Homo sapiens: one gene and its partner. The protein of the gene in region 2 purifies or fractionates together with the protein of the main gene of each other region. This does not show direct contact. Each region holds a gene or a part of one and is shown on either strand. Other genes may lie near its edges. The genes, in order: NLRP4 and SH3BP1.

What was found.
Region 1: the proteins of SH3BP1 (region 2) and NLRP4 fractionate together in Homo sapiens (co-fractionation; one large-scale study listed by BioGRID). This does not show direct contact.

Annotation. Positions count from the first base shown.
Region 1 is NC_000019.10:55,867,274-55,871,086, reverse strand, and holds part of NLRP4 (NACHT, LRR and PYD domains-containing protein 4), read right to left. Parts: intron 3,379-3,813; coding exon 3,211-3,378; intron 261-3,210; coding exon 90-260; intron 1-89.
Region 2 is NC_000022.11:37,642,533-37,646,345, reverse strand, and holds part of SH3BP1 (SH3 domain-binding protein 1), read right to left. Parts: exon of another isoform or gene 3,808-3,813; coding exon 3,731-3,807; exon of another isoform or gene 3,452-3,730; coding exon 3,340-3,451; intron 3,249-3,339; coding exon 3,172-3,248; intron 2,720-3,171; exon of another isoform or gene 2,703-2,719; coding exon 2,558-2,702; intron 1,710-2,557; coding exon 1,641-1,709; intron 1,477-1,640; coding exon 1,386-1,476; intron 982-1,385; coding exon 836-981; intron 1-835. UniProt on the Homo sapiens protein: GTPase activating protein (GAP) which specifically converts GTP-bound Rho-type GTPases including RAC1 and CDC42 in their inactive GDP-bound form.

The DNA of each region.
Region 1 (3,813 bases), on a different chromosome or scaffold from region 2:
AGCCTTCCTCAATTCCAGATGCCCCATTCTCAGCAGTGCATGCCCTTGAAAAGACGGCTTGGTCTTCAAAGAAACAGCAAAAAGCCTACCACAGTGAATCCAGGCAGCAGTCCGGATGTTTCAAGGCCTCGCAGAGAGTTTTCAGTCCTTCGTCCTTCAGGACATTGGCACTGAGGTCTAGATAGCGCACGCTCTTGTTACGCAGAAGCATTTCAGAGATGTATTCGCAGCACTGCTCGCTGAGGTGGCAGAAAGCCAACCTATGGGGACAAAAACACGAGAAGGAGAGTGAAGAGGGACGTGGTGTCTCAGGGAGATTTGCTTAATTTCACATTCAGGGTAATATTTCTATAATCTTACAAACTCCCCAGCTGAGATGAAGTTCTGGATTATCTGAAAACACCTCCTCTCATTTATTCTTTTGAGATGGAGTTTTGCTGTCGTCGCCCGGGCTGGAATGCAACGGCGCGATCTTGGCTCACTGCAACCTCCACCTCCCAGGTTCAAGTGATTCTCTTGCCTTAGCCTCCCAAGTAGCTGAGATTACAGGCACCCACAACCACATCTCGCTAATTTTTGCATTTTTAGTAGAGACGGGGTTTCACCATGTTAGCCAGGCTAGTCTCGAACTCCGGACCTCAGGTGATCTGCCCACCTCGGCCTCCCAAAGTGCTGGGATTACAAGGCGTGAGCCACCGCGTCCGGCCCTCTCATTTCTTCTTAGTTGCATGATAGAAGAATTAGAAAATAAGAGGGTAATGCAGAAGGAAAAAGTATCGTGTAATATGGCATAGCTAATACTCTAACAGGGCTTTAATTTTGGTTCTAATTCTTCATCTGATGATGTCCTTGGACAAGACATGGACCTTCTGAGACCGCTCCCTCAGGGACTGGTAAAGTGTATTGATTACCTCATGTGTAGAATCCCCAACTTTTTCAATTTCATTATTCTTTAAAATCACAGTAGGTTCAAAACTTTTTTTTTTTTGGAGACAGGGTATGGCTCTGTCACCTAGGCTGGAGTGCAGTGGCATGATCACAGCTCACTGCAGCCTCTACCTCCCTGGCTCAAGGGATCCTCCCACCTCAGCACCTCAGTCTTCTGAGTAGCTGAGACTACAGGTGCGTGCCACCACACCAAGCTAATTTTTGTATTTTTTTGTCAAGAAAGGGTTTCATCATGGTGCCCAGGCTGGTCTTGAACTCCTGGGCTCAAACAATTCACCTGCCTTGACGTCCCAAAGTGTTGGGAATATAGGTGTGAGCCTCCAATCCCAGCCAGTTTATGAATTTTTTTTTTTTAAGGATCCATGTTGACTTTGAAAAAAAAGTGTGGAGTAGAGAAAAACAAAAAAGCAGACGGTGCAAGCTAGTGATGAACGAACCACATATGGCCTACGGATATTTAGATTTCCTGGCATTTTTATGTTTAACAAAATCAGTTGGCAATATATAACCATCAGTAAAATTGTATGTAAAATCTAGATTTCAACCTCTGTTGAAAACTGGGATATCTGGCAATAATGAGCCGCATTCCCACATGGAAATCCAACAGGCTAGGACAGAACGGGCAACTGCTTCCTGTTGACAGACACAAGATCTGCATTTCCACGGAGGCCTCACCCAGCTTGCTTCTCTCACGGATCTCAATTTTCTGGCATATCCAGGCATTTGTGGACTTTGTTGTTTTTTGTTTTTTTTTTGGTTTATTTTTTGTTTTTTTTTGAGACAGTCTTGCTCTTTCACCCAGGCTGAAGTGTGGTGGTGCGATCTCGGCTCACTGCAACCTCTGCCTCCCAGGTTCAAGCGATTCTCCAGCCTCAGCTTCCCTCGAGAGTAGCTGGGACTACAGGTATGCACCACCAAACCCAGCTAATTTTTGTATTTTGTATTTTTAGTAGAGACGGGGTTTCACCAACTCACAGAGTCTACCAACTTCCATCTGGGTTCCCCTTCCTGAACTGCATCCTGAAATCTCTCTCCAGATAGTTACCTGGGACAATTCTAGGACTCACCTGTTTGTCCCTTATCACTCAGGCACCACTGTCCTTCATTGCCTGATGTCTGAAGTCTTAAACAGTTGTTTTATTTAGTTGGTTATTTTTGGTTGTTTTAGGTGGGAGGTTAAGTCCTGTCCCTGTCCCTCTATTTTAGCTCGAGGTATAAATCCTCTCATTTTCTTGACATTTTCAGAATACTCTTACTTTCATGTTGTTCATATTTCAAAATGCCCAAAAGTATAAAGAGGGAAAAATCTCCATCCTCCCCTATCTCCCAGCTTCTCAGTTCTATTTCTCACAGGCAGCCTATATTATAATACTATTTCTTCCAGTGATATTTGTGTATTTAAAAAATAGACACACTCGAGACCAGCCTGACCAACGTGGAGAAACCCCATCTCTACTAAAAATACAAAATTAGCCAGGCATGGTGGCGCATGCCTGTAATCTCAGCTACTTGGGAGACTGAGGCAGGGGAATTGCTTGAACCCAGGAGGCAGAGGTTGCGATAAGCCAAGATCATGCCACTGCACTCTAGCCTGGGCAACAAGAGCAAAACTCAAAACTCAAAAAAAAAAAAAAAGACACAAATGCATATATATTCTCCTGTCCTCTCCCCTTTTGTATAAGTATCACCTAAAGGTATTAGAATTCCATTAATAGGTAAATCAATTGGCCTTTAACACTTACTCATCTGTCTTCCTTCTGTGTTTTACGTACCCTAAAACTGGCTTGAATAGCCTCTTCTCATCCTATTACTGCAAGAACATCACATGTATTATAGTATTAACTGGGGTCAAGAGGCCCATAGACATTTTTCCCCGCTACTGTCCTGAGTACCCACCAAGTCTATTCTACATGCTCGAAATAACCGTTATCAACACGGGAAGTACCATGTGTGTTGCAGGTGCATTAACCCAACCTAACAGCTTTGAAACACAGTACGTGTTCTGTATAGACAGTCTCACTTGATAGCCATAAGACCTCTAAGACAGGATTTTCCTCTGCTTCTAAGTTAAATATTTTGCTTAAGAAGACAGTATATACGTGATAAATCCTGAACTAGAACTCAAGTCTTTTCTGATTCTTAAGCGTGAGCTTTTAAACCTCCGCTATGTGGCCTCCATCAATGAGCAGACTGTCATCAATAGGCCCAGGTTTGAACTGCCGCCATGGCCCTCCACAGTAGGCACCCCCAACATCCACTCACATCAGGTATACCAGGACCGTGTCTGGGCTGCACAGGGCTTCACACAAAAGGGGCACGCCTGTGTCTAACTGGTTGCAGGATACATTCAGATACGTCAGCTTCTTGTTGTTGGTTAGAAGGCCAGCAAGGACTTCACAATCAATGGGTGAGAGGTGACAATTTACCAGCCTGCAGGAAAGGGAAAATGTCACATTCTGTTGGTTTCTAGTTCCTGGACTCATTCCTCTTGCCAATCCTGTCAGAGTCGGGAAGCCCACATTTGCTGTCCTTGAGAGGCTCACTGCCTCCCAACCCTGTTCTTGATCCCTGTCAACCCAGTCTCTGGGGTACAGAGACAGCCAACCTGAGATGCACAGTCTCAGTTATATGCATGCTTGGCTTACGGTCTCTGGGGTACAGAGACAGCCAACCTGAGATGCACCATCTCAGTTATACGTATGCTTGGCTTACGGTCTCTGGGGTACAGAGACAGCCAACCTGAGACACACAGTCTCAGTTATATGCATGCTTGGCTTACAGTCTCTAGGGTACAGAGACAGCCAACCTGAGACACAGTCTCAGTTACATGCACACTTGGCTTACGGTCTCTGGGGTACAGAGACA
Region 2 (3,813 bases):
TGAAGGTTGCAGTGAGCCAGGATCGCACCACTGCACTACAGCCTGGGTGACAGAGCGAGATCCTGTCTCAAAAAAAAAAAAAGGGTCGGGCGCAGTGGCTCATGCCTGCAACCCCAGCACTTTGGGAGGCTGAGGCAGGTGGATCACCTGAGGTTAGGAGTTCAGGACTAGCCTGGCCAACATAATCTCATCTCTACTAAAAAATACAAAAATTAGCTGGGCGTGGTGGTGCATGCCTGTAGTCCCAGCTACTTGTGAAGTTGAGGCAGGAGAATCGCTTGAACCCAGGAGACAGAGGCTGCAGTGAGCCGAGATCACGCCACTGCACTCCAGCCTGGGTAACAGAGCAACACTCCATATCTCAAAAAAAAAAAAAAAAAAAAAAGTGTAAGGGAGAAAGGAGGCCCCAGCACAGCAGGATTGCTGAGCAGCGCAGAACTGTTTTGGGGTATCTGCCACCACTAGGGTCTATCTTCAGGACAGGGGGGCAATGTATTCACAGCAGATCCAGCCAGTGTGTGGCAGTGGAGCCCCTGGTTTGAGAAGTCACCTTCTCAAATGACTCTGGGCATGGTTACCTCTCTACCTCTGTCTCCCTCTTGTGAAATTGTGAAATGGAGCCTGGAATGCAAAGGCTTCTAGTACAGCGCTTGGCCCACGCGAGCATTGACACGGGGGAGGTAGTGTGGATGCCGCAGGAGGCAGTCATGTCTTCTCCCAGGGAGCTGGGCTCGAATGAGGGAATTACAGGCACCCGGAAAGGGCAGCAAGTGGGCGGTTTGGGACAGAATGAGGGCCCCAGTGCTCCTTCCCCACCTGCCCCAGGGGACCCCACCTCTTCCTTCATGCCCTCAGAAAGCAGCATCATGACGCAGGCCTCGATGGGCAGGGCAATCTCCCGGCCCAGCTCTTGCAGGTGGGTTGCCAGCGACACCCCATACACCCTGGGGAAGTGGGTGGCTGTCATCGAAGGGGAGTGGTCTGCAGGGATGAAACAGATCAGCGGCCCAGGGCCTTCCCACCCCGAGCAGTCAGGCAGGGGCACCCCCCCTTCATGTCCTCAAGGTGGTACCACCTGCCACTGACTGTCCAGGCACACATCTGAAATCATCCGTCACATCTCTCGAATCAGCCCGCCTCCACTGCCTCTGTCCTAGTCCAGGCCACCGTTGCCTCCTTCTGCCTCACAGGCCTGGCTCTAGTCCTGCCCGCTTCACTCCACCCTCCACACAGTAGCCAGAGCTGCCTCTCCATCACAGATTGAGCCTAGCTCTCAGAACCCATCCACAGCTTCCTGCTACCTTTCAGGATGAAGTGCGAGCTTCTCAATAAGCCCCGAGCAGGGCAGGGTCAGGGGTGTGGTATCGCCGGGCCTATGTCCCCACCTGCTTGGCCGTGGTTCTCCCTCAGCTCAGCCAGGGCTGTGTCCAGCGAGCTCAGTGACCTGCGATGGTAATCGGCCTGAATCTCCAGGAGCTGTGGGGATGAAGGGACACCCTGAGCGGAAGTGGGGGAAGCTGAGCCTTCTATAGGGTCCTTGAGAGCAGACGCCCCCTCCACCATCTTAGAGCCCCAGTGGCCCCTGGCTCTGGCATTCAGCCCCTGAACTCTGGATGGCTGGGGCCCGGTCTTGGACTCACACGAATGAAGTAGTTGGCATAGGAGTCCTCCTTGGTAACAAAGTGGTACAGGTCAGCCAAGTACTCGTCCTTGGGGACAGAGAGGGGAGAGCTTACGTTGGGTGAGGCTGTGGGGTCTAGAGGGGAAGAGGAGGCTTGGAAGGGTTGGTGACCTCCCCCAGGCCACACAACTGCAGGTGGAAGGTCCCAGCCAGGCTCCTCTCTCTGCCAAGGTTGGTGCTTGGGGCCAGCCCCTGGGAACTCCCTCAAACTTTTCTGGCTTCTCGTCCCCATCTCTGTGTCTCCATAGACTTAGCACAGTGCCTTGTTTTTTGTTTTGTTTCGTTTGAGACGGAGTCTCACACTGTTGCCCGGGCTGGAGTGCAGTGGTGCAATCTTGGCTCACTGCAACCTCCGCCTCCTGGGCTCAAGCGATTCTCCTGCCTCAGCCTCCTGAGTAGCTGGGATTACAGGCGCCCGCCACTACGCCCAGCTAAGTTTTTGTATTTTTAGTAGAGACAGGGTTTCACCATGTTGGCCAGGCTGGTCTTGAACTCCTGACCTCATGATTCGCCTGCCTCGGCCTCCCCAAGTGCTGGGATTACAGGCGTAAGCCACCGCGCCTGGCCTTGCACAGTGACCTGTTATTCACCATTCAGTCATTCTTTCATTCACTCTTCATTTATTCATTCACTCGCTCGCTCAGCAAACAAACACATGGAGACTCAGGGAACAGACCAAGTCTCTGCCTTCCCAAGTTATGCATGGGGTACAGACAGAAGAGGCTACGAGGGAATGGCGGAGCTCTGCTGGCTCCTAGCCACGTGGCCTTAGGCAAGTCATGTCACCTCTCTGAACTTCAGCTTCCTTGCCTGTGAGATGGGCCAGGACCCACCCCTGCCACCCCTACATATCCAGGGGACCCCCATGGCCCTCACCCTGCATTGCTCCACTTTCCTCTTCAGCTCCTCCTCCTCCTCCTTCAGCGTCTCCACCTTGTTGGCCATGGTCGTATGGCTGTGACTACCCGGGCTGCCTCCTAGGCCTTGACTGCTGCCTGAATTCTTGGTTGCCTGACTGAGCCTGGAGATGATCCCAAGGTGAGCTGGTCACCTGCCCTGTTGCATGTCCAGAGCCAAGTGTCCCCTCCATACAGCAGACCACATGGGATTCTAGGATTTAGAGCTGCAGATCTGAGAGCTCCACTGGCCGGGGCCTCTGCCCAGGCTGGGCCATGAGTGCTCTGGGTTGCCCCCTGGTGGCAGATTTGGTGATCACAGCCACTCCACAGAGGGGAGAACAGGGCTGCCGCAGGACTGTTTACAGGATCCCAGGCTTTAGGGTTGCCCCAGCACCAGCTGTGACACACGCGGGCACACCCTCACAGATACGCTAACCACCTGTGCTCCTAGGGACCAGGCGTGCACAAGTACACACACTGTACTCAGCAGACCCCACAGCATCCTCCTGGTGTGGCCAGGGCCTCAAAGCTCTATGACCATCTCTGTGGGCTGACCCAGATATGAGCCCCCTGAGCGGCTGGGGCTCCCACCTGCTCTTGAGTGTGTTCCAGTCGGACACGAGCTTCTGGAGGCTTTTCTTGTGTTTGAGGATGGCTGGCAGCTCCTCCTGGGGATGGGCATGGGGGGGTCAGTGTGCTGGGGGAGGAGGGAGCCAGAAGCTGGGGAAGCTGGGGGCTGAAAGCAGGGCACAGGCTCACCTCACTCAGCCTGCTGAGTGGCTGCAGGACGTCCCTCTCCAGGGTCATCTCAAACTCGGCCAGGATGCGGGCCAGCTGATTCTGGATGGCACAGCTCATCTCCAAGGCCTTCCTGTGGACACGGCACCCCATGGGTCCAGGCGCCCGCTGCCCTCACCTCCACTGGAAACACTTGGTGGGGCCTCTCCTCCCTCACTTCCGGCCCCTCCTAGATATCCTTCATCTCTGCTAAGCTGAACACCCTCCCAGGCCTGGCCACCCTCACTGACCTGGGAACTGTCCCCAGCCTGGTCATTCTTCTGATGTGGATGCCCTCACCACCTGGACCCCCTCCCAGCTGAGATCACGTCTTGGTATCCCCAGGTGAGGGCTGGGCCCCGTCTGTGCTCACCCCATGCTGGAATCAGGGTCCAGCTCCTTGAAGCTCTCAGCCATCGTGGTGGACAGAGCCATGAGGGGAAGCTTCTTCTGCAG